Regions from separate parts of the Homo sapiens genome. Here regions 1, 2, 4, 5, 6 and 7 are each linked to region 3. A link means that fine-mapping ties the variant in region 3 to the plasma level of a protein whose gene starts in the linked region. Region 3 holds a variant in brackets. A gene starts in each other region. All regions are shown on their forward strands.

The links. PIP is the posterior inclusion probability: the model's chance that the variant is causal. The UK Biobank Pharma Proteomics Project read protein levels with antibody pairs (Olink). The fine-mapping took linkage between variants from a reference panel, not from the people measured, so its PIPs are less certain.
Region 1: EGFLAM starts here. The variant in region 3 is fine-mapped to the plasma level of the EGFLAM protein (UK Biobank, PIP above 0.99).
Region 2: CHAD starts here. The variant in region 3 is fine-mapped to the plasma level of the CHAD protein (UK Biobank, PIP above 0.99).
Region 4: it holds the start of GZMA, and the variant in region 3 is fine-mapped to the plasma level of the GZMA protein (UK Biobank, PIP above 0.99).
Region 5: CPA4 starts here. The variant in region 3 is fine-mapped to the plasma level of the CPA4 protein (UK Biobank, PIP above 0.99).
Region 6: CA4 starts here. The variant in region 3 is fine-mapped to the plasma level of the CA4 protein (UK Biobank, PIP above 0.99).
Region 7: it holds the start of FBP1, and the variant in region 3 is fine-mapped to the plasma level of the FBP1 protein (UK Biobank, PIP above 0.99).

What each region holds. Positions count from the first base shown.
Region 1 is chr5:38,256,633-38,260,696 of GRCh38, forward strand. It overlaps EGFLAM (EGF like, fibronectin type III and laminin G domains), which reads left to right and starts at 1,927. Exons shown (of 22, transcript NM_152403.4): 1 at 1,927-2,219. The coding sequence starts at 2,123. LOC124900966 (a long non-coding RNA gene) reads right to left here and starts at 2,034. Exons shown (of 2, transcript XR_007058739.1): 1 at 1,962-2,034; 2 at 465-999. RefSeq lists an enhancer at 557-1,058.
Region 2 is chr17:50,468,446-50,472,509 of GRCh38, forward strand. It overlaps CHAD (chondroadherin), which reads right to left and starts at 435. Exons shown (of 4, transcript NM_001267.3): 1 at 1-435. The coding sequence starts at 368. It overlaps ACSF2 (acyl-CoA synthetase family member 2), which reads left to right. Exons shown (of 16, transcript NM_025149.6): 11 at 2,583-2,690; 12 at 3,983-4,064. RefSeq lists enhancers at 1-350, 351-1,308.
Region 3 is chr19:54,247,608-54,251,671 of GRCh38, forward strand. LILRB5 (leukocyte immunoglobulin like receptor B5) reads right to left here. Exons shown (of 13, transcript NM_001081442.3): 13 at 1,814-3,325. The coding sequence ends at 3,179. LOC107987463 (a long non-coding RNA gene) reads right to left here and starts at 339. Exons shown (of 3, transcript XR_007067341.1): 1 at 1-339. RefSeq lists an enhancer at 3,887-4,064. The variant A/G (reference allele first, on the strand shown) is at 2,078.
Region 4 is chr5:55,101,502-55,105,563 of GRCh38, forward strand. It overlaps GZMA (granzyme A), which reads left to right and starts at 1,145. Exons shown (of 5, transcript NM_006144.4): 1 at 1,145-1,251; 2 at 3,973-4,062. The coding sequence starts at 1,182.
Region 5 is chr7:130,291,138-130,295,189 of GRCh38, forward strand. CPA4 (carboxypeptidase A4) reads left to right here and starts at 2,024. Exons shown (of 11, transcript NM_016352.4): 1 at 2,024-2,111. The coding sequence starts at 2,044. RefSeq lists an enhancer at 2,429-2,518.
Region 6 is chr17:60,147,436-60,151,499 of GRCh38, forward strand. CA4 (carbonic anhydrase 4) reads left to right here and starts at 2,538. Exons shown (of 8, transcript NM_000717.5): 1 at 2,538-2,657. The coding sequence starts at 2,600.
Region 7 is chr9:94,637,742-94,641,805 of GRCh38, forward strand. It overlaps FBP1 (fructose-bisphosphatase 1), which reads right to left and starts at 1,777. Exons shown (of 7, transcript NM_000507.4): 1 at 1,400-1,777. The coding sequence starts at 1,569. RefSeq lists a silencer at 1,851-1,910.

The DNA.
Region 1 (4,064 bases), not on the chromosome of region 3:
TTACTTCCAGTTTCAGCATCACAGAGAATCATTTTTAAGTAGGAAAGCCTGCATGGGAGGCATCTGCATTGCAACACTCGCTTGGTTCTGGGTGCCACATTAAGTCCGAGATAAGAAATCACTTTCGCATAAAGAAAGGCCTCTAACAACTTCTCAGCTGGCGCTGGAGGAGCTCTCTCACACAGGTGGAGTTCAAAGGGAGGTGGCACGACCCGACACCAATGCTGAAAGCAGACTCCTGCGTGGAGTGGAGGCATGGCCTAGATGACCTTTAAAATGCTAAAAAGTCTATGATTTTGAGACCTTTGAGACTAGCAGCCTTGGGGGCAGTCACTTTGCTTAGCTTAGTGGCCGGCTTTATGGTCACCTTGGACGTGAAGAGCATAGTTCTGTCTGAACTTTGCTCCAGTTCTATGTAAGAGGACAAGCTCTGGTGTCACAGCTAAAACTTCCAAATACTCAAGTTGGAGGGGACTTTGAATTTATTTGTGAACAGACAATTGCACACTTGAAAATGCCAACACATAAGGGAACACACTCAGCTTTGCTAACTAACAAGATTGAGCTCATTACAAACTCTCCAGCCAGGGGATATTTCATTCTTAAAAGAGGAGTAGAAATCCTGTGTGTGTGTGTTTGGGGGGCTGGGGAGGGGAGAAGAATATATCAGTCAACATTGTTTCCTCCCGCGCTCCCAAACATAGGCTAACTGTGAAGAGCCAGGACGCCCACCGAGTCCTGGCAGCGTTGCAAGGTGGGGAGGGGGCGGGCGCGGTCCTGTCGCTAGTGACTGCAGATTTCCTCTGCGGGGCACTTCCTACGGCCTTTGATCTTTCCCCAGGAACTGCCGAGGGCCGCGTTTGCCTCTAAGTTTATTCCCTCTTGGTTTATTTATTGTATCTGCTTTCTCTTCTCGCTGGTTTGGAGGTCAGAACGCCAGTATGCAACGGGACTTGTGTCCCAGGCAGGGTCTCCCCTCTCCAGGCACTACCGCGAAATCTGGCAAAAGGTACATTTTACTGAGTCCTAGGGCAGCAAATTCAGCGGCGGAGAAAGAGTCTTTCTCCATTCAGGAGACAACCCAGGAAGCCCGATCCCGGGATCAGAGGCCAGGACCCCGCCCCGGCCCCCTGCCCCAGGCCCAGCTGGGCGCCGCCCAGGGGCTTTTCTCGGTCCGCCTGGGGGCTCGAGCTCGCGTCCCTCCCTAAGACGCCAGGCTTAACTTGGAGTTTCATCTCCTCCCCAGGAGGGTCTCAAGTTGCCTTCCTCTGCCGGGAAGGGCCCCCACTCCCCCGCTCCAGGCCCTAATCTCCACCCGGCGTCCCAGTCTGAGCGGCCTGGCCTCAGCTCTCCATCTGCGAGCCTTAAATCCCATTTATCTTCTTAGCGCCTCAGACCCGGACGGTCCCGCCTCTCTTCCTCTCACCCCCACCCCACTTGCAAATCACAGACCCCCGTCTACCCCTCGCATCCCCCAAGTGCGCTGGACCAACTACAGCAACCTTTGAGGTGTTAGAAAAAGTCGCCTAGAGGGGCGCGGCAGGAGGAGGGCCCAGGTGGGGTGGAGGGGGGGCGCCCCAAGATTTCAGGGTGAGGACCGCGGAGGGTCCTGGACCCGCAGTCGCCTAACTCCTGCCCTGCGTCTCCAGTGCTTGAAGTCGGTCCCTCCCAGGTCCCCAATCTAGGTCACCAGCGGGGAAGGGCTGCGCTGGGGGTCGCTAGAGAGGGTGAGGGGCGGGCTGTCTGCTTCCGAGGTGGGCGAGGAGTGAAGGTTTCAGGGCCTGTCCCTCTCACTTCCACTCGATTGTAATTTCATCCCCGGGCCGGTCGAGCCTCCCTCCCTCCCGCGGCCAGCCCTTCCCTCCCAGTCGGCCTCCTTCGTCGCCCCCGCCCCCGCGAAAAGCCCTGCAGCTTGCAGCCGGCTTCACTCGCGCACGCCGACCTCCCGGCTGCAGTCCTACCTCTTGGAACTACCCGTGTTTCCGGGCCCAGCCCTCGCAGCCCCCCACCTCCTCGCCCCGGCCCGGGGATCCGTTGGGGCCGCGTCCCCCACGCGCCCCCGGAGACGCCCTTTCCGTGTGCGCCCGGGACTTGGTGAAACTTTGCAGGCGCCGGCTGCGAAATGGATTTAATCCGAGGCGTCTTGCTCCGGCTCCTGCTCCTGGCTTCCAGCCTCGGACCCGGCGCGGTGTCGCTCCGAGCGGCCATCCGAAAACCAGGTAATGCGCTCCTCCGCCCAGAGCCACCACGCCCCGAGCGCCCCTGCTGGGCTCCGGGGCGAGGACACAGAGCGGGCAGCGCACCGCCTCCCTCTCCCCGACCAACGTCTGCTTAACTCGCTTCAGCTCTGCCAGGAGCTGAGAAAAGACGCAAACCTCGCCCTCCCCCGAGCCCGGGCGGCGCTAGGGATATTTATTTATTAAAAGAATGATCAATTTTCCAGACATAGTAGATAGAGGTGGTGGTCCCCGTGTTTGACCGCAGAGAGCTGACAGTTGGGACAGCGATCGTGCTGTCTCAATTACAGAGGATGGCAACCATGCAGAGGAGTCAAACCAGCCCCTCCTGCGTCTCCAAACATTTTACTCAATTCATATTGTCCAGAGCCCAGCCATTTCCTGTTAAGTGTCTGAAGGGTTGCCTGGAGCCCCCTCTGCCCATCTCGGGTCCTGCCCACGCGTTGTGCAGGGATGTGGACTCTGCTCTTAGCATCCTCTTCCACTCTGGGGCCATTTGTTCAGAAGGAAGCACCCAGTGGGTTAATTTTACCGTGTTTTGAACTCCTGTCTTTGCTTTGGCATTTAAACAAAGAAATGTACGTTGTAACCTGTTATAAGGGACTGGGAATTGGGGGAGAACTTGAAACCATAATAACGTGTGTTTCCTCTAGCTGCATATAGGTAAAAAGTCTTCGTTTATTTTGGTCTACTTTGATTTGGCCTATGCTGTGAGATTATTCAAAGTAGAACATTCTGAACAATGAAGTTCTAAACATTGTTTCCCAAATAACGATTTTTATTACTTTTTGCTGGGACCATATTTAGAATTCTGAAAAATCTGTTTTGTCTTAACTTACTTTGTAAGGGAGGTTGTCTTATGGGATTAATTATATCTTATGAACAATGGAAAACAATATTACTTTTATTTGAATGCAGTCTGCAAAACCTCACAGAAAGTGCAGTTTGTCTTCACAAACGTTTCTGTAAGAAAGAGGCAAAGCTAGGAAAATTTATCAGAGGGCAGAGAAAATCGTCTTAGCGGGATCCCATGTGAATGCTTAAATATTTTCGCATTGAAACTCTCTATCTGGAAATATGACTTGTTGCATTTCGGCTCTGGAAGCGTCCTCAGTCTTTGCACTGTGTCTCTTATTACCAGCACTTGTTACCTGCCTTGAAATCTAAGGTCATTATCATAATCTACACCATATTTAAATTATGAGCCACTCCATTTATGAGCTCTTCAATTCATTTTGGAGATAATAGCTTCAGTCCAAGGTAATATCACATTAAATTGTTTCTCTTCCTGCACGCACACATACATATACCTTCAAGGATTTCAGTGAAGGGCTTCTTTCTAACTTTCCTCCTTAAGATAACCACATCACGATCAATTGCATTTTGCAGATTTATTCACATGAAATCATCTATTAATTGTCACAATTTTTAAACAAAGCATAGTTATATCTATAGTTTTAAAGCATGAACAGTGTATGCAATGCTTTTTAAAGGATATATTTTAATCCATTTAAGGGGAATTTTTAAAAAGCATTTTATAAAAACCTGTTGTATAAAACTGCTCATGTGGGTCATCATATTTTCCTTCTTATTTTTTGGAGTTCTTCTCCTAAAAAGATTTTCTACCTGGTTCATTCAGGGTCTCATTCTGATATTCATGCCAGGAATATGCCATGCTGGCCTCTTTGGTTTTATTTGAAGCATAGATAGGGTTTTGATAGTGGAAACACCACCTCTTAAATACTTTGGCATATTAATTACATCAAATTTGAGATAGAAGTGTTTAGACTAGGTTCAACCTAGAAGAGTTTTATTTTTATTACTTTA
Region 2 (4,064 bases), not on the chromosome of region 3:
GTCAGGTCGTCGAAGGCACCTGCGCGCAGCACGCGGATGTCGTTATGGGACAGGTACAAGTAGATAAGTTGCTTGAGGCCGCGGAAGGCACCGGCGGCCACCTCGCGGATCTGGCAGTGCTGCAGGTGCAATGACACGAGGTTCGGCATGGCCCGGAACGAATTGGCAGCCAGCACCGGGAAGTTGTTGCGCTGTAGGTTGAGCAGCTTGGTCTTCTCTGACACCTTGGGGATCTTCTGCAGCCCCACCTTGTCGCAGATGACGTGCTGCAGGTCGCTGTGGCAGTGGCAGTTCTGGGGGCAGGCGGCCAGCGCCGGCAGCAGACCAGCCAGGAGGCCGAGGCTGAGCAAGAGCATTGGGCGGACCATGGCTGGGACGCCTGGGGCCGGGGCTGGGGGCAGCAGCGGCGGCGGGGCGCGGGCAGCGGCGAGTCCTAGGCGCTCGGGTCTGCCGCCCTCTTTATACGGTGGCCCTGACCGCAGCCGGCAGCCGAGCCAGCTCCTACGTGGAGCATCGAGGCCACTGGGCTTAACTCGCTCGCGCCCAGAGATGCGCCCCCGCCCTCCACGGGGAAGGGGGCGGGGCCGTTCCCCCAGCCGGCTACCGTGCATGAGGGGGTGGGACCGTGGCCCCCGAGCCCCGAGCCCTGAGCCCCGGCTGTAGCCCCCCGCTCTCCTATGGTGCTCCTCTGCCTACCGCCTTTCCCGGGGCTTTTCTGGGAAGGGGGAATAGTTATGTCTGGAGCCCCGAGTTTACATCGGAGAGAGGGAGGCGTTCCCTCAACTTATTTGTTTGCTCAGGTTTGAGCCTCCACGCCGCGCCATCCACACACGCTCGGCCGGGTGCCCTGGATGCGAGGCGGGAGGAAGCGGGGCCGGACAGCTGGATGCGTCTCCCTGCGGTGGGCCAGCTGCCTGCGCTTTAAAGGGGCGCTTGTGCGGCGCCTGCCGAGCGTGAGAGCCGCCCCGGCGTCGGTCTCCCACTTCAGACTCGACGCGCCGAAGCTGGCCCTGGGTAGACCCGAGCTCCTTCCCCACCCTCGGGCGCGCCCCCACCCCTCTCTTCCAACCCCGCTTGCGTTTCTGTCGCCGGCGCCCTCATCCCCTTTTTCCACCGCTGAAGGCTAAGCAGAGAAGTGGGAAGTGGGGGAGAGTGGCCCACAGGAATGGCAAACACACCTGGAAACCACAGGCCACAAGCACAGTCGCACCATCCCCCCTCCTTCATCGCCCCGAAATATCTCCATCCCTCATCCCCAACCCTAGTGGTCAGGACCCGCCCCTGAGGGGTCTCAGGGTGGCGGCTGAGTGGCGCCGAGGTGTACTTGGCAGATGCCACATTCGGGCGGTGGCCCCAGGACTGTGAGGAGGGGTGCGGGAGGGGGTGGGGCAGGTCGAGGGACCAGCCCTGGACGGCTCTGGCTGCCAGACCCTAAGTTCTGTGGGCAGTCCCGCCCCAGCCCGCCAGATTTCTGTGTGCCCACTTGCCAGCCACGATGTCCGGATTCCTGTGGAAAGGGGAGGGTGAGCAGGCAGGGTCACAGCTCTGGCCTCAGGGTGAGCTCCAAGCTGCCTGGCACAGGATATTGTCTGTGATGAGGGGTGGAAGGAGAAACCAGAACCCACATTGAACCAAACCCCAGCCGTGCCAGAGCCAGAGCAGCTGATATGGGGGAAGCTTGGTGCAGGGAGGAGGATGGATGAGATCTGGTATCCGTTGATTAAAGGGGACCTAGGATACGGGGTAACTAGCCTCTCTTCCCTTACCCAGTACCCTCGTGTTGGGGCCTGGTTTCCAGGGCCTGCCCTTTTCCCAAACCTCTCTGCCCCTTGCCTCTAGGATAGGAGGGTCATACTTGGCCTAGACCATTCCTTGATGGTATTTAGGCTTCTCCAAGGCTGGCTTCTGGTTTTTCTGTTGCTCAGGCTTTCCAACCACTGGAAATGGGGGAGGTGGGGTGGGGGTACCACTGGTTTTTAAAATCACTGCTTAGGTTGTTTTTTTATTTTGATGGAAATAAATTCACGGGAAACTCTCCAGAGCTTGGGGGACGCCTGCCCCAAGGCCAGGCACTTGTTCAGGGTTTGCAGAATGCGGGGGTGGGGTTGTGTCTGTGCCACTCCTAGCTGGGCCAAGGCAGGCTGGCTTTCTCATCAAGTTTATGGGGCCTTCAGCTTGGAAGGGAGGAGCCGGGGATGTGGCCTGAAATCAGGAAGGTGGGGTTAAGGCAGCCAGGGGATGGGGGGAGAAGTGTGGGGTGTTGGTAATACCGGAGCCACAGGCACAGACAGGTGGCTGCTCCAGGGAAACGGGGCACTGAGAGAGCTCCAGCTGGAAGAGAATGGTGTCCCTGCTCTCAATTTTCTTTCAGATCTGGGGCCCTGCAGAGATCTAGTCTGCTCACTCCCAGCACCTCTGCCTCCTGACCCCAGGCCCCTACCAATGATGTCTCTGTTTCCACCATTCGGCTGCCCTCCACTTTCCCTTTTCTTTTATGAATTCCTTCCCATTTCCTCAGATAGCTCACCTGATCCCTCTGCACGTGCTGAGCCCTCTTCAAACACCCTTTCTGGACCCTCTAGGTTGCTTATGGAACCACAGAGAACAGTCCCGTGACATTCGCGCACTTCCCTGAGGACACTGTGGAGCAGAAGGCAGAAAGCGTGGGCAGAATTATGCCTCACACGGAGGTGAGCCCCTGACCAAGACTCCAAAGTCCCACCTCCCGTCACCCAGCTGGGGTGCACCCAGCTGGGACATCGGTTGCTTTCAGTGAGAGAGTCAAATGGCTCACTCAGGATGCCTAGAGCCCCCCAGCAGCAGGGGTGTGCTAGGCCTGGCCCGGAGTGTTCTCTGTGGGCTAAGCATGAAAGGGGAAGAGCTGGAACAGTGGCTGTGAGCGGCTGCCAGCTGAACTTCTCCGCGGCCTCCCTTCCTGTCTGAGGTGTGTTTTTGCCAAGCCCACTGTCTGTTTCAGGGCAGCCAGGGTAGCCTCAAAGAGGAGCCAGAGCACAGAGAGTTTTCCTACACAGCTTCTTTTCCTCCAGTGGTGCTCGCCTCTCGCTTTAGCAGAGTTCTTCTTCTTGCTTGGCGTAAACACTTCATTTCCCAAGCAGCCTATCCCTTTGGGGCGGTCCCTTTGCCCCTCAAAGGTTGCCCCAGAGTGCACCTGAATCTCAAATGCCCAGCCATGCCTCCTTTCCTGCTCCAACACTGGGGCTGTGCCAGCTGGCTCCTGATTTCCCCTGCACCCTTCTGCTCCCGCCCCTGGGGGATCGCTGCCCCCGTGCACAAGCAGCTGCTTCCCCTGGGGCTGACCGCTGTCCTGGCGTGAATCTGCCCTGCCCTCCCGCCAGAGCAACCATGTACCCAGGGATTGAGTAGGGATGTGAGCCTCCTCCCGTGTGTGCTACAGCTGCACTGCCACTGTCACTAAGATGCCCACCTGGAAGGGAAACAGGGGCAGGCATCACTCACCCCATTTCACGGACACAGACACTGAGGCACACAGAGGCTCAGCTTTCCTTGGCACGGTGGCCGTGGCTCTTTTCTCTACCAGGCTTTCAGACTCTGTCTCTCCTGTTCACATGGTGTTGCCATGCCACCCTGTTTGGCTTATTTGCTGCTTAATGGGAAGTAAGAGGAGACTCCCTTCTCCTCTGCACGGTTTATAATTCTTCAGCTGGCTCTGCAGTCCACAAACCTCTTTCTTTGCAGCAGCTGCCTGCCCACTCTGTTTCCTCAGCCCTCCCAGCCTGGGACTCAGCTCTTCTTTCATGCCCAGCTCAGGTCTCTCACTGGCTTTGGGTCGACTCTAGCCTTTGTCTCCCTTCTCTGGATGGGGATAAGCAGAGCCAGGGGGCCTCATTCCAGGCAGTTGGGTTGGGGGGTTGGGGGCAGGCAAAGCTCTCTCCATTTCCAAGGACCACCTATCCTGAAGCAAGAGGATAGGAAGCCCCAACCTGAGGCCATCCTGTCCCAGGCCCGGATCATGAACATGGAGGCAGGGACGCTGGCAAAGCTGAACACGCCCGGGGAGCTGTGCATCCGAGGGTACTGCGTCA
Region 3 (4,064 bases):
CCTGCTCTGGGTCTTCTCATCTGACAGCAGGGGCCTGTCTTAGTGTCTCCATCTGGGGCTGTGTCCTCCTTACAACCCTCCCTTCCCCAGCACAGCAGGGCCTGGGGGAGGGAGTGGGCTGTACAGGACGGACCCTGCATTGCTCTCACCCCCAGCCCAGCCAGGTCCATCTCCTACTCTGCCAATCCCTGACCTTCCCATGCAGAGCCTTTGACCACAGACTGAAGGGCTGCACTGTCGGCTTCTCGGCTTCTGAGGTTTTGGTACTCGGACTAGCTTCCTTGCTCCTCAGCTTACAGACAGTCTATTGTGGGACCTCACCTTGTGATCGTGTGGATCAATACTCCTTAATAAACTCCCCTTTATATATACATCTATCCTGTTAGTTCTGCCCCTCTAGAGAACCCTGACTAATACATGTTTCTGAAATACGCAGCCATAGAAGGAAATGAGAAATGAAACTTCCTGACACAGGCAGGAAACCTCAGGAAGCAGCGAGGTCAGAGCTGAGTTGGCTTCTGGTGACTTGCAATGTCAGGGAATCACTAAAAGGGAGGTTTCCGCCTCTATATGAGACAGAGGAGAACCCCAGGGCCCTCACAGTCAGGGAGGGGTTGGGGTTTTGGGTGAAAGTGGGAAGTTGTGGCTCCTCGTCCCCTGTGTTTGTGGATGGCACTGGGGTATCTCTGCTCATTGACTCAGGTTTATGGTCAGCCCTGAGCCTCCCCCTCTGTGTGTGTGAAATAGATTCATTGTAGAGTTGTCAGACATGAGGTTCACACTGGACCCTCCCCTGCTGGTTACAGGCCTGAGCAGACTCACAAGACCCGGGCAGGTGGTGCCGTCCTCCTCTTTTCAAGCCTAACGCCCAGTGCAGCCCTGGTAGAAACCCTCTCTGGCAGATGAGGCACTGGGAGATGAGTGTCCAAGAATGAGAAGAAAGAGGAATCATCCTAATGATAAAAAGTGCTATGACTGGCTGCCTGCGATGGCTCACGCCTATTTTCCCAGCGCTCTGGGAGGCCGAGGTGGGCAGATCGCTGGAGCCCAGGAGTTCGAGACCAGCCTGGGCAACATGGTGAAACCCCATCTCTACTAAAAAGACAAAAATGAACTGGGTGTGGTGGTGCACACCTGTAGTTCCAGCTACTTAGGAGCCTGAGGTCGAAGATCGCTTGAGTCTGGCAGGCGGAGGTTGCAGTGAACTGGGGTGGTGCGCCACTGCACTTTAGCCTGGGTGACAGAGCAAGAACCTGTCTCAAAAACAAACACAGGCTGGGCGTGGTGGCTCACGCCTGTAATCCCAGCACTTTGGGAGGCCGAGGCAGGCAGATCATGAGGTCAAGAGATCGAGACCATCCTGGCCACACGGTGAAACCCCATCTCTACTAAAAATACAAAAAAAAAAAAAAAAAAAGATTAGCTGGTTGTGGTGGCGGGCACCTGTAGTCCCAGCTACTCGGGAGGCTAAGGTAGGAGAGTTGCTTGAACTCAGGAGACAGAGGTTGCAGTGAGCTGAGATCACGCCACTGCACTCTAGCCTGGGTGACAGAGTGAGACTCCGTCTCAAAAAATAAATAAATAAATAAATAAAAACAAAAAACAAACCAAAAAATCAAACACAAAGTGCTATGGTTGACAATCCACACTCACTAATGAGGATTATCATGGTCAAAAGGAGTACTAGGAATGTGTGAGACCCATCTTAGGTTAAACATGTTTAAATATTTGAGAAATACAGAGGACATTGAATTTCTGAGGCAGGATTATATGATTTTTTTTTCTACAGCAGAATGAATATTATATAAAATAATTAGAAGACATAGAAAAATCAGATTTAATGAACACAATCAAAATACTCATTCCTTCGAGGACAAGACACAGTGAAGCACCAATTATGAAATTAGAAAACAAAACAGAATTTTTTTTAGAGTGTAGCATAGAAACTTTATAAATTGCAATTTAAAGTACTTGGGAGAATAGAATGAGGAGGGGGAATGTCCTATCTATTGTAGGCGTCAGAAAGAAGGAAGAGAAAACGATGTCTAGCAATAGCCCAAGAGGTGAGTAGCTGAAC[A/G]TTTTATAGAGATGAGGAGAGACTAACTAAGGACTAGGGCGCATCCCTTTAAAATTGAAATGTATGGGCTGGACGTGGTGGCTCACGCCTGTAAGCCCAGCACTTTGGGAGGCTGAGGCGGGCGGATCACCTGAGGTCGGGAGTTTGAGACCAGCCTGACCAACATGGAGAAACCCTGTCTCTACTAAAAATACAAAAATTAGCCGGGCGTGGTGGCAGGTGCCTGTAGTCCCAGTTACTCGGGAGACTGAGGCAGGAGAATCGCTTGAACCCGGGAGGCAGAGGTTGCAGTGAGCCGAGATCACTCCACTGTACTCCAGCCTGGTGATAGAGCGAGACTCCGTCTCAAAAAACAAAACAAAACAAAACAAAAACCCTCACACAAAAACCAAGACAAATCCCCTTGACACAAGTTTATCTGTCTAACAAACCTGCACATGTATCCCTGAACTTAAAAGTGAAAAAAATAAAGGCAATATGTGTCAGATTTGTGGTGGTGTCTGCTGTTTCACCCCCATATGGAAATGTGTGCCTGAACCCCGCTTTTTTCCTTGCTTATTGTGGCTAGGATTTGTGAATGTAATTCACATTCTCAAGAATGAGCTTTTTTGGCTTCATCGAGTTTTCACGTAGCCCTCATTAGTAACTCCTCTTGTTATTTTTGTCCCCTTCCTCACACCTTCATTTGGAATAATTTGTTGTTCTTTTTCTAAATTCTTTCTGTCATTGCCAAGGTCATTAATTACGTAGGTTTTATTCTTTTCTAATTCATTCGCTCATTTGTAGTTTTCCGATTTCATCATTTAATGTGTAATATTTACATTATCATTCCAAATTTATACCATGCTCTAATTTCTGTTTCAGTTTTCTCAGCTCATTGATTTATTGAGAAGTCTGTGGCTTCATTTCAAAAATGCAAGGATATTAGTCATCTTTGACTGCAGAATCTAGTGAGTCCCAGAGTTCCCAGGATGTCCTGGTGGTCTTTGTTAGGGGTCCAGGCTGGCTGGGGTTCATTGGTGTCCACTGGGGGCAGCTCCTGTGCCTTCTGGAGTCTCTGAGTCTCCTTCTGTTGAGTATGAGATCTGGGTCCCCCGTGGGCTAGTGGATGGCCAGGGGGGCGTAGATGCTGGGTTCAGCTGGAGGTTCCCTTTCCTGGGATGGAGGAGGCTCAGTTGCCTCCCGTCTGAGGGTCAAGCTGTGCAGCTGGGCGTAGGTCACATCCTGGGGGGCTTCAGATGCAGCAGCCTGCAGCGGGGGAGAGTGAGAGGGAAGGAACGTGGTGGGGGTGGGGGAGGCCTGGGGGCCTGGAGAGGAAAGGACTCTCTCAGTGTCCATCTGTCTGTCCTCTTCTGCCTGTCTGTCCTTTGTGTCCAGGAATTCCCCAGACAGTGGGGAAGGAGGAGAGGCCATTTCTCTCCTAGGTCTGGAGTGTTTCACCGGGGCATACGTCACTGCCTGGGGGTCTTCATCGTGTGGGCTCTGCTGGAGAGAGACAGTGGTGGGGGGTGTCCTTGAGTCCCCCTGACCTCCTGGAGTCAATTTTCCTCACTGTTCCCGGGGTGATCCGATTACATCCCTTTCCTGATGGAATCTCAGGGACGCCCTAAGGCCGTGGAGGGTCTGGCCGCTCCCTCCCTGTGGTTCTGGCCTCTGCTCCTCACTCTGACCTTGCCCATTTGGCTGCAGCCTCACGGGCCTTCCCGCAAGAGCTCGCTGCTGCCTCGGGGCCTTTGCACGGCTGTTTCCTCTGCCTGCAGGGGCTCGTCCATCAGAGGATCGTGTGCCCCACTCTGTCCAGGCTTCTCAGATGACAGCTGAGCAGACAGCCCTCCCCTTCCATTCAGACTGGCCCCACTGCCCCACACTCTCTGCCCTTTCCCTGGTTTATGTTCCTTACAGCACGTTGCACTCCTGGACACGATGCATTTATTTGCATTTTGTCTCCCACCATGAGGTGAGCTCAGGAGGCGGGGGCGGCTTTGCT
Region 4 (4,062 bases), not on the chromosome of region 3:
TGACTTTTTTAAGTCTGCACTAAAATTACTCACCAAAACCAATAGCAGGGTCCTCACTGCTGTTACTGAAAATGATTAACCTTTGATACACTTGTAATATCTGAGAAAAAGAAATGCAGGGGTCTCAGCAGGGCTCCCTTCTAAGGTCACTTGATTTCTAAAGAAGTAACCACTAGGTTTGAAGTCATCAGGATGTTAACTATGGGGATGGTTGGTTCAGTACCCAACATCCTGACAGCACATCTGACCATGTATATTGTATCGGAGACCACATCCTCAGCTCAGAAAAAGAGCTGAACTCATTTCAAATAGAAAGCACACTGCATACTGTTCCTCCAGGGACTGAGGTTGACTCTTCTTAGAGTGAGACATTCCCCAACATTGGAACAAAAATGACTCCCACTTCTTTTCTCACCTAAACCTGTTCAGAAGAAAGTAAGGAAGAAAGGCAGGAAGCAGGGGTCGGGGGGGGGCGGGGAGGGAGGGAAACTCGGAGATACTTTCAGTATCTAAAGTTGTGAAACTAGACAATCAGGAACGCACAATCAGAGGGCTGAAAAGGGCCAAGAGCCCCTACCCTCCTCCAGCCCATGTTCCCACACCTGCCACAGACCAGGCAGGAGCACAATAAACACTCACCACAAAGTGGGGAAGGAAAATCCAGGCAGGAGCCTCTATGTAAATAAATCTCCCTCCTGTCCTCAGCTTGCACTTGGCCTGCTAATTCTTATATAACCCAAGGAGACAGCTAGAAAGAATTTTGATTGGTGACCAATTTTGAGGACTTTTATTAAAATTCTAATTTAAGTCTTCGAGAGTTTCCAGTCATGGATACTACAGATAATATTGCAGATGATGAAAGCGTCTTCAAAATCATAGCTGAGACACTTTACAGTCTTCCCTGGTGTACTCTGATGGCAACAAGGTCCCTTGCCCCTCTCCTACCCTGTAGAATTCCAGCGCCCCCCTCAGCAGTCCTAGCAAAGGAAAGCCTGCCTGCTGGCAGTGAGCCATCATCCACCATTCTCACTTATTTGGATTTGGTTTCCTAATGCTAAACTTTGAAACTTGAAAAAAAAAATGAAAGGAAACCACATCCTTTTTACTCTCAGTATATAGATAGAGGCAGTTAAGAACTGAAAACAGATTTTCAGGTTGATTGATGTGGGACAGCAGCCACAATGAGGAACTCCTATAGATTTCTGGCATCCTCTCTCTCAGTTGTCGTTTCTCTCCTGCTAATTCCTGAAGGTAAGACTGATTCTTCTCATTTCCATTATGACCATGAAGCAAAATGGAGCAGACTTTCAATGAACTTTTGGCAATATTACCTTCCTATACTGAAAGAAGATGTTTTCCCCCAAGCCTTATAATGTTTAGCCAGGCACAATGGCACATGCCTGTAGTCCCAGCTACTAGGAACGCTGAGGTGGAAGGATCACTTGAGCGCAGGAGTTTGAGTCCAGGCTGGGCGACATAGTGAGACCCTGTCTCTATTTTTTTTTTTTAAATAGCATTCTTTCTTGGATTTTAAATATGTCTGTATTTTAGAAAAAAAAATCTTTTCTTCTCATAATTATTTTGCAAAAGATAGCAGAACCACCAATGCTTATTGCTGCCAATTTGTAACTTGAAAATTGCCAAAAAGGACAATGTAAAAATGAGTTAACAAAACTCTCTTGTTCGTAAAACAAATAGTACCTTCCAGGAAAGGAATAGTGGCAACTTAGTCAGCTCAGCCTTTCCTGCTGCAGAAAATGCATAGATAAAGACAATTAAGACAAATCTGACCTAGACACCAAAAGTGAATCAGGAATTATTAGAATTTTTATACTTATTTCTCTGGTCTAGAGACTCTTTGGCAATAAATTAAGGCGTGAGGCCAGTTCCCTCATTAACCCTTTGGGTGTGCTATAGTATTTTTTATTAAGCTAATTTTTTGTCTACCAAATGGTAACCAATATTTCTGCTTTTGTGTGAGTTGAGCATGCATGGGTTAAAATGCTGTATAATTCATGGTATTACCACTGAAAGGGTGACAGCTCTTGGGGAGCTCTAGATTTCCCTTGAAGAACCTGCTAGGAAGTGAGGACTACTCTCAAGCTGTGGCAATATGGAGCCAGCCACGGTTTTTCCCAGGATTCATCAGCTTTTGGAGGCAGGGACTTATGTAATAACCTGCCTTGCCAGGAATTCCCAAAGAACTCTGGTTTATCATATTTAGGTGCATATCTGGTTTATGCACCTAAATATGAGAAGACTTTGGGAGGCTGAGGTGGGTGTTTCACAAGGTCAAGAGATGGAGACCATCTTGGCCAACATGGTGAAACCTTGTCTCCACTAAAAAAACAAAAATTAGCTGGGTATGGTGGCACGTGCCTGTAATCCCAGCTACGCAGGAGGCTGAGGCAGGAGAATCGCTTGAACCAGAGAGTTGGAGGCTGCAGTGAGCTAAGATCGTGCCACTGCACTCCAGCCTGGTGACAGAGCGAGACTCTGTCTCAAAAAAAAAACAAAAAAGAGAGAGAGAGAGAAGAAATATAAAAATAACAAGGCTGCAGGACATTTGGGACAAAGGTTGGCTATGTTATAAGCAGGGCATAGTATGACTATATTCAGGCATGTTAAATCCTCCATAACAGAAAAACACAGGGCAGATAAATCCAGCCATATCTTTTCTTCAAAGGAAAACAACAAAAGCAACCTGCTGTGCTCCTCTTTGTTTCCTGTGTTCAGAGAGGGCAGTGTGGGCCCATATAAGGAACAGACAGCAAAGCAAGGCACAGTTGAAATCTATCTGTACATGAATCACCCTAGGAAAATTGGGATTGGGTGAAGGTCTTTTGTTTCTATAAGCTCTTTACCCTTTTGTTTCTAGAGCCTAGAATTTCTTCCTCCCAGTTTCCTTTTTAAAAGCAGAGACCTCTGCTTTTTCAAATCACACTAGCCACATTTCATGTGGTCACTCTCCTCCTTGCTCTTACCCTCATCAAATCTTACGAAAGGCTTCTATAGCTGTCATTAATACTTGCCTGTGAATTTGGCAATGACTTAGTCCTAATTATGGAACAAGAGGCACTGTGCCCTATTCAAGAAACCATGAGTCTCAGCAAAACTATTTTGGGAGAATCCAAGAACATCTGGTGCAGGAGGTGGAGCACTCGGAGTGTATCACTAAGACATAAGGTTCTCTCTATCTGCATGTATGGTTTGCCTTGTGTTTAGTTCTCACTGTTCCTTAACAATGGGTCTCTACTTCAAGACTATCATCAAGGAAATGTCACTTAGGCAGAATTCTTGGCATATGGTATCTTCTCTCTTCTCTTCCCTATCTCATTGGAAAAGACCTTAGATTAAACCCCATGGTTTGGTCTAGAGATTGAAGGGGAGGTGCAATCGATGTTATTTTCTTAACTTATGAGTGAGAACAGTGCAGTTTAATAACCAAAAGTCTCATAATGACCAAAGGACTGAGGGGTAGGGTCACAGCTAAACGATGCTAATATCGGTTCATAAGCTATATTTTTGCAATGGCTTGGGGTTAAAAGGGAAGTTATGAGGCTTCTAAAAGTCTTATCTATTTCCCCCAAATTAATAGTTAGCCAAAAAGGGTGGGAGCACTTGAGGTTGTCACTACCACTGGCATTTCCTGCAGCAACTGTTGATGGTAAAGACCAAGGCAGAGCTTTCTGCCCTGGGGCCTGAGGTTGCTGGTTTGTGACATCCAGCCTAATGATCCTGGAACAGTCAATGGCCTCGCTTCTGTGGGTGGAAAAACAGGACCCTAGAGTCCAACAGGAATAGGATTTGCATCAGATGTCTGCGGGTCTACATAGAGTAAAAGCAGGGGAAATGCTCTCATCCAGACTTCCTCTCTGAGTGCAAAAAGCATGGCTGGTCTTAGAAACATGACTTTGTGTAGAGCTCTTTGGGGGTGAGCACCAATCTGATTTGTCTTTTTCCATTGAACAGATGTCTGTGAAAAAATTATTGGAGGAAATGAAGTAACTCCTCATTCAAGACCCTACATGGTCCTACTTAGTCTTGACAGAAAAACCATCT
Region 5 (4,052 bases), not on the chromosome of region 3:
CTCGAGCCCAAGAGTTTGAGACTTCAGTGAGCTATGGTCGCACCACTGTACTCCAGCCTGGTCGACAGAGTGAAACTCTGTCTCAAAAAAAACAAACACACAAATGGTGGGGACCCAAGCCAATGACATTCCTTTTTCCTGGTTGCCCTATCAAGCCTCGGTCTCAGGTTGCACACAGTTTCTCTTTAGATATTGACTCCCATTAGGGATTTAGGTTTTCTTCATGTGGATGATTTTCCCTGGGAGAAAAGGTAGGAACTAAATTTCAGCTTGCCTAGAATGCTTGGTCCTTGATTCTCCCACTTCACATCTCTTACAGATTTGGGTCTCAGTTGTTCTTGTTGCTGACTTCAAAGCTGACATCGATCTCAGTGACGCTGAGCCCACGCTTTGTGGTGGACAGGGTGGGTGTAGGAATTCAGTTGAAGTGTTGAGAGGACAAAAGGACCCTGAGGGAGCAAGAGGAGATGATGGCCCCTAGCTCCACAGCTCCTAACAAAGGCTCTCTCTGGGACCACACTTGAGATTCTGCACCCTCCTTTTGATTAGGCTGGTTCTTGAGCCCTGGCTAAGCCAGCCTGAGCAAAGATCCTGCGAAGTCATCCCTCCCACCTTGATATCTGATCAAGTTCCTCATCCCCACCTTTGATGGGGACTTTGATGTATAAGTCCTTGGCCTGCTTTTAGCAAGAATCCCCCTACCTTGATGTCTTCTCTTAGTAATCCCACTGATCCTCTCTGTTTTCTTTGCCGTATTCAGTGTTAAGCACAGTAAGTCTTTCCTACTGAAATAGCCATGGTCCTAATCATAATAATCTTGAATTAGGTCTTACATTTTAACACAGGTCAGGATAGTTTTTCTTTAACTCTCTCAACTATGACCCTTGGTTGTGTCCACTCCCTTTGAGTGGGTGTGGAAAGCATGTAGACCGTAGGGAGGGTGGGATGGGAAAGGCTGTGGGAACTGGGGCTCCCAGGACAGACTCAAAGGTCCCAGAGCCCCTGAAGGCGTTATGGAGATATGAGTGTCTTCCATTTATTCAGCTGTGACTTGGCGGAAAGGACACCAGACCCACAGTCTAGGAAGTATAAGAAAATCTTATTATTTATTTATTTATTTATTTGAGATGGAGTCTCACTCTGTCGCCCAGGCTGGAGTGCAGTGGTGCGATCTCGGCTCACTGCAAGCTCCGCCTCCCAGGTTCACGCCATTCTCCTGAGTAGCTGGGACTACAGGCGTCCGCCACCACGCCCGGCTAATTTTTTGTATTTTTAGTAGAGACGAGGTTTCACTGTGATAGCCAGGATGGTCTCAATCTCCTGACCTCGTGATCCGCCCACCTCGGCCTCCCAAAGTGCTAGGATTACAGGCATGAGCCACCTCGCCCGGCTGAAAATCTTATTATTGATAAAACCATTAAGCCTTCCCCATAGATCAGACCCCAAGGAACACTGATAATTTATTCAGACTAAAACATCCTTTCTATATCATTTGCCTGATACATTTCTATTTCCTTAGTGGAGTCAGAAGAATTAGGCTTCAGATACATAAAAGAGGCCCCAAACCTCTTTCCTCATCCTGACCTGCCCTGGTGAAATTCTCTGGCAGGGCTTGTCAAGCATGTGGTCTTGGAGCCAGCTCAGTCTTGCTTTGATAGTCTTAACTTTTTTATTATTATTCTAGAGGTAATTCTATGCCAGGTTTATAATCTGACCTCTCCTATCAGGATAAATTCCATCCAACACTGTGGAATTAGCTTATTCACTGAAAAAACACTATTTAAATGCCAAGTGATGAGCAATATGGTACCCTTGGCACAGACTTTTTCAGCTCCTGGAGCAAGTTCCTGACCTTGTAAATTGAGATGCTCAACCTTTATCACTTGAAAGGAATGGGAGAGGCATTGGTAGGGCCTGCCTGTCACAGTCAGAGTTGCAAGGGTGCTTGGGAATCACATTAGCATTTTTGAGGACTTGAGTCACTCTCAGACTCTTTATAAATACAGCTTGACTCAGCCACTGTATGACTGACTCCCCGGGGACATGAGGTGGATACTGTTCATTGGGGCCCTTATTGGGTCCAGCATCTGTGGCCAAGAAAAATTTTTTGGGTAAGTTCCTTTTGGACTTATTATTTGGTTATTTCAGAAATATGGGAGCCAAATGGAACTGAAAATGAATGGCTGATAATAGCTCACATGGAGGAAGAAGACCTGGGCTCTTGTTCCAGCTTTGCCCCTGTGTCATCCTGGACAAGTCCACTCTCTTCTCTGAGACCCCATTTCATCTGTGAAATCAGGACTAGATGATCATTGCAGTCTCTCCCCAGCTCCCTCATCTCCTGCCAGTTCTTTTTCTGCCTAGTTCTTACTTATAAGGTCAGTTCCAGGCATCTACTTTCTTACTCCTACCTTATTAATTACTAAGAGTTACTGGTTACTAAGAGCTACGTTATTAATTACTAAGAGTTACTGGTTACCAGAAATGGTTTGTTTCCAATTTCCGCCATGCATAAAGGGAAACCCTGGGTCTCAAGCTTGTTGGTTTCACTTCTTTGTTAATGGCGAAGGCTTTGCAGAGCTGGTGCCTTCTCTTGATCTGCAGTTTAATGCTCTACCCCTGAGCTACACCCTCTTCTGAGCTGGTGCTTTCTTACTGGCTTCTGGGACGTGGAGATTTCACAGGTCTTGCCTAGACACAGCTATGAAAATGACATGCAGAGACACATGCCTGAACACCGTGTGTGTGTGCGCGTGTGTGTGTGCACACACACACGTGCTCAACACGCTCCATGCAGAATACTTTGAGGTTTGCAGGGGAGAGGACATTTGGGTGGTAGGAGAGATAAAAGGGATACCATGGTGCCCTGTTAGAAGACTGAATTATAATAACTCATTACTGCATAATACTTTACCATTTGCAAAGAGCTTTCATGTACATTATCTTTTTGATCACACAACAACTTTGCCAGGCAGGGGTGTTATTTTCTTCCACTTAAACATGAAAAAAATCAGCCTTAGAATGTTAAGGAACGCGCTCAAGGCCACTTAGCTGGGAAGCAGGGGAGCTGGAACTCTGAACGTAAAACTCGTACCCTTTTGCTATAACACAAGTTCATCTCCAAATAAAATCCTATATCTCTTGGATCTGTCTCTTAGTTTTCTTTCTATTTTACTATCTGGCTAATGAGACTTTGGGGTTGTTTTTTGAGGTAATTACTTATATGAGATTGACTAAGTTTTATGATGATGACTTCTGTTCACACCTGTGTCTCTGTTGCCAAATAGCTCAGAGGGGTTAGGAGTGGCAGGTGGCCAGGGAAGATTTTCCCACAGGCGGCTCAGCAGTAGGTGTGTAGTGACTAGACTTGCTGCCGTGTGGGCTGACGCATGGAACTGTCAGGCTCCCACTGCAGCTATTCATGTGGCTGAAAAATCTCTATTTCGCAAGATACAGACCTCTCTTGCAATGTGGTGGGCACCTGGGCTGCGACAGCTGGGCCAGGCCCTAGAATGCTCTCTGCAGGAATTTTGCACAGAAAAAGCTGTGTGCCTGAGCTGACTGCAGATGGTTTGAACTGATAGTGTCATTCTCATCCCCAAATCCATTCTCACGCCATAGTAGGAAACCTAGCAAAGGTAGTGGAATTCTTCCTGGGCTCTCTAGAGGTGTCCCAGACACCCAGCTTTTAGAGCAAGGGGAACATTTAGAGCAAGGGGAAGCTGGCCTCTGAGCATTCAAGTGGTTGGGAAGCCAGGCTCTGGATTGGCTGCTGAAGATGAGGATGATGGTTTCTCCCCACCACCCACCACCCATTCCCCTCCCTTCCATCTGCCTCACCTATCTCCCCAGTCTCTCTTGCTCTACTGGAGTCTTCTGCCCTGGTCTTCAGAGATCTTCAGGATGGGACAATGGCCAGGATGCCTAGAGGCACCAGGCAGGCAGAGAACAGGAACCAGTTGCAGAGCTGGTTACAGCATCAACAGTAGCTGGCAGGCATCTAAGAGTTCTATGAAACCATCTCTTAATATTCTTTGTGGTGGCTGCTAAGC
Region 6 (4,064 bases), not on the chromosome of region 3:
GCTGCCATCACAGAGCAAGTGGATGGAGCCAGAAGTGACTCCAGGGTTATGTGTCTCAAAGCCCCTTAGCTTTCCCATGGCCTCCCTTCTGTTCCTGACAGGGCCATGCGTGCAAACATCCCCAGAGGACAAGAGTGTGATTAATCTTTGCATCCGCCATGGGCCAGTGGCTACACCCAGGCACTGAGAGGCCGGTTGTGAGAGTCTGGGCTGGGCAGGCCCTGGTTCACAGCAGACTCCAAATAACTGTTTATTGGTGGAGGTCAGCCGGGCAGGGATTACCATCTCCAGTTTATAGATGAGGAAGTTGCAATCAGCCGGGTGCAGGAAAGTTGCCCAAGGTCATCCGTGAGTCAGAAGAAGAGCAAAGACTTGAACTCAGAACACTGGGGGCCTCTGCAGAGTAAGAGGAAGGAGGCTGGGGCTGCTGGGCTGGGCTCTCCCACTCAGGTGGCCTGGGCTGGCAGCTTTATGGGCCCTGTAAGTCGCTGGGACATGTCAGCACTCATTCCAGCTCTAACGACCCTAAATCAGGCCTTGTCCCCTACAGGTAAGCAGGGCCCCAGGTAGTCTAAATAGTGACAGGTGACTGGTTTATGGCAGGCCAGGACTGGGGTCAGGGCTGGAGATAAGGCTGAGAATGTTAAGACCAGGAACAGGAAGAGAGGGCCACTCACCCTGTGTAACCTTGAAGTTAGAGATGGCAGATGGAGCAGGAACCAGTCCACCACCCCATCGCCAATGTGCAGGCTCTGTGGTGCCCATAATTAAGATGCACCCATAAGAGAGTGTATAGCTTTACCCCTCCCGCATTCCTCAGAGGGGATGCCCTACCAGGGACTCGTTCTCCTCACCCATCTTTATGGTCCCAAAATGCACCCAGGGCCCCCCTCTCTCCTGGGGGGCCTGAATGCAATGAACTTTAAAGTGGATCATTGATCAACAGTCCCTTAACCCCACCAAAGTTTCCCAAGCCTCTCCCCTGCTCATCAGGGGGCTGGCCAGAGGTCACAGGGACTCCCTGGGGGTGGTTTTTATTCCCAGGAACAGGCTTCCTCAGTCCTGAAAGGGACATTTTTATAGCCCTGTGAACACAAATGCACTCCCCAGAATAGGCTCTGGGTGTGGAATCCCTCCTGTGGCTGTCATGGTCGCAGGCTGGTGATTACATTATACAGTGGTGTTGACAATAGAGCCCTAAGCCTGGCATGGACACCCCCTCACCTCCCTCCTGCCTCTCTGTAGGATCAAAGCTGCTCTGTGAGGCTGTGTGATCCTGGGCCAGGAGCGGGGAGTCAGCCTCAACCCTAAGCAAGGAGGAAGCATCTTTGCCTGAATCCTTCTGGGGGAGGCAATCCCCCTTCAGAAGTCCCTAGCCCAGGTTCGAAGGTCGGTAGGGACTGAGAGGTTGGCAGCGGATGGGGAGTGGCTAAACCAGAAAAAGGGGGCTTCCTGTTGATGGATTGATGGAGGAGGTCCAGGTCCACTGCCTGGTTCCCCGTCCCTCTCCCGCACCCCAGCCTGAGCTTCCCAAACTCCCACAGAAGCCCCCACCCCATGTGGGACACAGAGGACCTGCAGTAGCAGGAGGGCACAGCTAAGAGAGGAGACAAGAGGCAGCTTGGGGGCATGGGGGGGACCCCATTTCCCCAAATGTTGGAGCCGCCCTTAAGGGAACTTCCCCTGGACTCCTCTGGAGGTCTTGCCAGATGGGAGAACCAGGGGTCCATTCAGACCCCAGTCTCTTCTCTTCCCATCTCATCTCTCCACCTGGGGGGCTCAAAGAACCTAGCTCCTCCCCTTTGACCCCATCAGCTTCTCCCTCACCGAATCCTCTTACAATCCATTTCTTAATTCTGCCCCATCAACCCTCCCTGGTCATCACATAAACACCAGCAAGGGCAGTAGTTTAGGGACAGCTTTGCTCTGTATTCGAAGAAAGGTCTTTGGTCTGCTTAGAAATTAAGTTTGGAGCAGCCTGGGAGGAAATAGAAGAGATGAGACCCAGAGAATCAATGGCCACTGCCAAAGAGAGATAGGAGAGCCTTTCTGCGGCCACTGATTCAACAAACGGCATCACACGCCCCTCAGCCTCTCATCTCTTCGAGGCCATCTCCACCCCCACCCCCACCCCCACCCCAAGGCCATTCCAAGGTCCCATTCAAGACCACTGCGCAGGGGTGGCGCCAGAATGATCAAAGTCATCATGGGGCACTCATCTTTGTGTGGGTCAAGCACTTTGTGGTGTCGTGTCCCTGTTCCCAAACCAGGGACCAGGAGTAGGATGGGGGAGGGGCAGGGCGCCGCTGCTGAGTGGAGAGGACGCGGAGTGGGTGAGGGGGCCTTGCGCACAGGGCAAGAGGTGGCCAGGCAGGGCGGGGGACCGGGGAGAGCGGAGGATTTCAGATGAGGGACAGGGGAAGGTGGAGAGGGGAGGGCAGGCCCCGCCAGGGGGAGGAGCCGCCTCCCGCGTCCAGCTGTCGGGGCTCCCTCCCGTCGCGGCTCCGCTATAAAACCCAGGCCGGCAGGATCGCTGCACCCGCGGCGGCCTCCTCGGTGCGCGACCCCCGGCTCAGAGGACTCTTTGCTGTCCCGCAAGATGCGGATGCTGCTGGCGCTCCTGGCCCTCTCCGCGGCGCGGCCATCGGCCAGTGCAGGTGAGCTCCCGGGCTCCGGCCCCAGGTGCCCCTCGGCGGTCCCCTCCGTGCCCCCAGCTCCCGCCCCTGCAGAGGATCCCCCCGCGGGCGACCGGTGAGCGTCGGTGGCGCTGGGGTCCCGGGTTGCGTGTGCGCCGGGGGCCGCGAGGGTGCGGGAGGACTGGGCAGCGCGCGAGCTTGTGTGTGCACACGCGTGTCAGCACCGGCTGGGGGAGCGTGTGCACGGGTGTGCGCGGTGAGGGTGTGTGCGCGTGGCCCGGCGAGACGAGTTGGGAGTCCCTGATAAGGATGCGTCTCAGGCCGGGCGCGGGTGCTCCAGCCTGAAATGCCAGCACGTTGGGAGGCAGAGGCGGGTGGATCACCTGAGCCCAGGAGTTCGAGACCAGCATGGCCAACATGGTGAAATCCCATCTCTACCAAAAATACAAACATTAGCCGGACGTGGTGGCACACGCCTGTAATCCCAGCTACTCGGGAGGCTGAGGCCCGAGAATCGCTTGAACCCAGGAGGTGGAGGTTGCAGTGAGATCACGCCACTGCACTCCAGCCTGGTGCTCCGTTTAAAAAAAAAAAAAAAAAAAAAAAAAAAAAAAAAAAAGGATGCTTCTCGGACCCGCCTCAACGCACGCCTTCTTTTCTCACCCAGCCTCCTCCGTCTGCCCGTGGGTTTCCGTCCGTCCCGCTGGGACTCAGCGCTGGGTGACTGCCCCGCGGCCAGAGCAAGGGCGGTCTGGCAGGGTCCTGGAAGCCGCGCTTCCCACACGGGTTCCTTGCCCCTGAGGGTCGCAAGCTCCCCTGGCCTCCCTAACCTCCAGCGCTGAATTGGGAGCCTGGCGGGGGCGGGGGGTGGGGGACCCGGAGCCCCAAGGCCTCTGCGGAGCCGGTCTTTCCGGACAGGGTGATTTTCGTTTAAAGATTAATGGTGAAGCCGAGCTCTTAATTATTCCTCTAGGTGGGAGGTGGCAGGAAAGGCATGTTAATATTTGATAAGAAGCTAAAGGCGCTTCAAGCGGCTGGGCACAGGGATCCGATCCTGGAGGCACCTTCTTTGCAACCCCAGACCCCATCACCGGAAGACCCCCTCTGCCAGTTCTCAGCCCAACCACCCCTCGGATGGTTCTTGGGGTCCACGCAGGCTGAAACCTCCTCTCCCAAGTTAGGTGCTCCATCCTCAAAGCGGCGGAGTGAGGGGTGAAGGTGTCCTCTGCACAGAGAGGAGCCAGCGTGTGCCCTTTGCAGCAGGGACTGGCTGAGCTGTCTTAGAGGGTCGAGGGGCACCTTGCAGCCTCTCCACCGGGCCCCTGGGAGAAGAAAGAGAAAAAGCAGAATGTGGAAACTTTTATTTGTAGGGTTGGACATTGGAAACCTACTAAGCAGCTAGAAAGTAGAAAGAGAAATGCTTTGCAG
Region 7 (4,064 bases), not on the chromosome of region 3:
TGTATGGACAATCTGAAAACCCAGTTACACTTCAGTTAAAAGTGTGGATCAGTTAGCTAGAAAATACCTGCGCACGGCGGCTCATGCCTGTAATCCCAGCACTTTGGGAGGCCAAGGCATCACCGGAGGTCGGGAGTTCGAGACCAGCCTGACCAACATGGAGAAACCCCGTTTCTACTAAAAAAAATTACAAAATTAGCTGGGCATGGTGGCACATGCCTGTAATCCCAGCTACTCGGGAGACTGAGGCAGGAGAATCGCTTGAACCTGGGAGGCAGAGGTTGCGGTGAGCCAAGATCGCACCATTGCACTCCAGCCTGGGCAACAAGAGCAAAATTCCATCTCAAAAAAAAAAAAAAAAAGAAAAGAAAAAGAAAATACCTGTGCACACCAACACAAACGAAAGGATGTTGTGTGACTTACAAAAAACCTCACAAGAAGGGGTCCTTTGAGTCTCCACTCCACTTGACCCCTTGCTACTCACAATGTGATGAGTAGACAAACAGTATCTGATGGGCAGCACCCACCACAGGAGAACTTCTTAGAAATGCAGAATCTCAGGACCTGTCCCAGAGCTATGGAAGGAGGGCACACATCTTACCAAGATCCCCAAATGATTCCTGTGCCCAGTGACGTTCGAGATGCACTCCATAGCGCATTCAGAACCATTCTACAAACCACTTTTGAGCTTTCCACTAATTGGGCAGAGGCTGCACACACCATCATTGCAAATCGATAGGGGTTTTGAAGCCCTGGGTGTTTCCTGTTTCTGGCACAGCATGGCAACTGTCCCAGCAAGGGGCAGCCCACGGGAGCTCCTTTGCACACAAGCCCTGCTGCTCCTAAAGGCTCTGGACACACAGGAGACCTCCCAGCCTGCTTGCGGGGGGGGCGGGGGGGACACTCGCTCCTAACAGGTCTTGTTTCAGGTCAGAGATAACTGGATTAGAAACCTGACTTGGGTCCCTAATTGCAGAAAGAGTGAAGGAGGACAAAGAAGAAATGGGGAAGGAAGGCACCTGAGCTAGCACTTTCCTGTCTGAGGCTAGGGCGGGTATGACGGGCAGGCCAGGTGCCCACACTTGGCCGGCTGAGAGGGGTACGAGGCAGGCTGCTCAGGGCAGAGAAGAGGAATGCAAGATGGAATCAGGTGTACACCTGTGAGACGGACCCCCAGGTGGGCCCCTCCAAGGTCAAGGGAGGAGATGAGGACTTGAGTGAGGCTGAGCCAGCTTCTGGAGAGAGGGGCTACCAGACAGAGAGCGAGAGAGGCGCTCAGACATCAGACGGACAGACAGAGGCTGACGGCAGGAGGCTCAGAGGGCCCAACGTCAGCCCGCCGGGCAGGCTCCCCAGGCAGACAGACAGGACGGGGCCCACCGCCCAAGGCCCGACTCACAGGTGCGCGATGCCCGCCTTGCGCACCGCCGAAGAGATGGCTTTGACTGCTGTGCAGAGCGAGTTGAGCAGCTGGGTCAACTCGCCCGTGCCGCGGGCCTTCCTGCCCTCCTCCATGACGAAGCGGGTCAGGGTGTTGACGTCCGTGTCGAAGGGCGCCTGGTCAGCCATGCTTGAACCGGGTAGAGCGCGGGGCTGCAGGTGCAAGCGGCAGGTGCGGGGCTGCAGGTGCGGGCGGCAAGAGAGGGCAGTAGGCACTGGCCGCAGGTGCGGAGCTGCAGGTGCGGGCGGCAGGTGCGGGCCGCGGGACCTGGCGGGAGGACTGACAGACCGACTGCCGCCCCGAGTGTCCGCAGCGCTCGTGGTGCAACTGGGCCAGGCCAGGCGCCGGCGGGTGAATCGCGGAAACCTTTAGACGCGGGTCGGCCCCCCGCCCCCGGGAACACTCTTGCGCCCCGCCTACCCCGCGGACCAGACCGCGGCTCCGCCTGCTTGGATCTTCAGACAAGGTCGGGGATCCTCCCTGCGGTCTCCCAACCCCCGCCCCCACGCGCCCTGCCGCCCCCTAGTCTTCCTGGGCTGTCGCCCCCCACACACACCCCTCCGTGCCCTCCACCCGCACTGTGGAGCGGGACTCGGGCCATCGGACTCTGCCAGAGAGAAAGCTATGACTGTTTCCTCCAAAATCATAAAACGGAAGTTCAGAAAGGTTAAGTAACTTGCTCAATGCCACCAGCTAGGCAGCGAAACCCGCAGCCAGTCCACATGGCCTGGCTTTAGCTCTGCAGCTCCTGCCCCGTGTGGCTGCCTGCCCCCGCCCCCTGCCCAAGCCCCGTCCACTCTGCCTGGCCTGTCACCTGGCCCTTCTGTCCCCGCTAGGAGACACAGAGTCCCCGTTTCTCACCCATCTGAGGGCCCACGTCTGAATCCTTAATCCAGGCCTCTTCTCAAGATTCCTAGAATTCGAGAGCTATTGAGTATTTGAATTTCCAAGATGTGAGTCTCGCCCGGAAGTTTCCCGGAAAACGGTCGCTGACACAGAGTCCTCGGCTACCACACAAAGGCCAGAGGGCTCCACCGCCCGCATCCTGACCCCCTGGTAGCCACAATGCTGCAATTGATGTGCTGATTCACGAAACAACACCTATTGAGCACCTGCTGTGCTGAACACTGTCCTACCTTCCAGGGGTGGAGCCTGATCCAAACAGACAAAACTCCTGCCCTTTTCGAGTGTACGTTTTCACAGAGAAACAGTAAAAATAAATATATAAACAATAGATTAGTTTGTTACATAAGCCATAAGTACCATAGAGAGAAACGAAATAGAAAAGGAAGACACGGAATGTGGAGGGGAGAAGAGGGTGAGCAGAGGCCTCAGTAAAAGCTTCTCTGAGAAAGGGATATGTGAGCAAAGAGGTGAAGGATGCAACGCGCCGGTGGAGATGGGAAGGAGAGCGGTTTCCTCACCGGGAGAGCCAGTGCACAGGCCCTGGGGTAGGAGACCATGTTTCAGGTTCAGGGAATGGCCAGGAGACCGGTGGAGCTGAAATAGAGCTAGCAAGGGTCAGAGGTGGAGGAGATAAGGCCAGCGGGAGGATGCAGAGGTGAGGTCTAGAGGGCCAAGTGAGGTTTGACTTTGACTAGGAGGAACCCACTGGAGAGTTTGGAGAAGAAGAGAGGCATGGTCTACCCTGTGTCTTCATACTGCGGCTACTGTGTGAAGATCAGACTGAAGACAGTGCCCTCCAGGTTACTAGGAGATAGTGAGCCAGGTGTTAGCAGTGGAGGTGGTGGATTCTGGACATATTTTGAAGGTAGAGCTGATGGGATTCGTTGACAGATGAGATATGTGAGAGACAGGAGTCTCGGATGATTCTAAGGTTTGAGGCCTGAGAAACTAGAAGAATGCAGTTGTCCTCGACTGCGATGGGGAACACCGAGAGGGGCGTGTGCTGGAGGCAGGACTGACAATTAGGAGCTAAGTGTGGGACCTGCTAAGTTTGAAATGCCTTCTAGACATCCAAGGCAATGTCAAATAGACAGATTTATGTATCTGGAGTTCAGAGGAGAGATCCATGCTGCAGGTATAAATTGGAAAAGCCAACTGGAAAAACCAACCAAAAACCAAGAGATGTGACATCCGGGAAGCCAGATGAAGAAGGTAAGTAAAGGCGGGCTGACCCATGTGCCAAGCGGTGTGGATGGGGCAGGCAGGACAAGCTCTGAAAATTGACTGCTGGATTCACCGTGGAGACCTGGGGTGCAGATTCCTGTGCCCAGGGTTGTCAGATGCGGCGGCGTTGAATGAAGGAAGGTGGTGGTACCACCAGGAAAGACAGCGACTGTCTCCTCAAAGCCCCAGAGGGGACTTAGATGCCTGGCAAAGAGAGTTGATCCTTTAAGGGTCTTATTTAACTCTTTGTTCCTCAGGCAACTTTTCAGGAAAAACCCTGTGTTAAAAAAAATAGTAAGAGAAATACATCCTTAAACATAAAAACTCAAATAGGCCCGGCTCACTGGCTCACACCTGTAATCCCAGCACTTCACTTTGGGAGGCCGAGGCGGGCAGATCACCTGAGGTTGGGAGCTCGAGACCAGCCTGACCAACATGGAGAAACCCCGTCTCTACTAAAAGTACAAAAATTAGCTGGGCATGGTGGTGCATG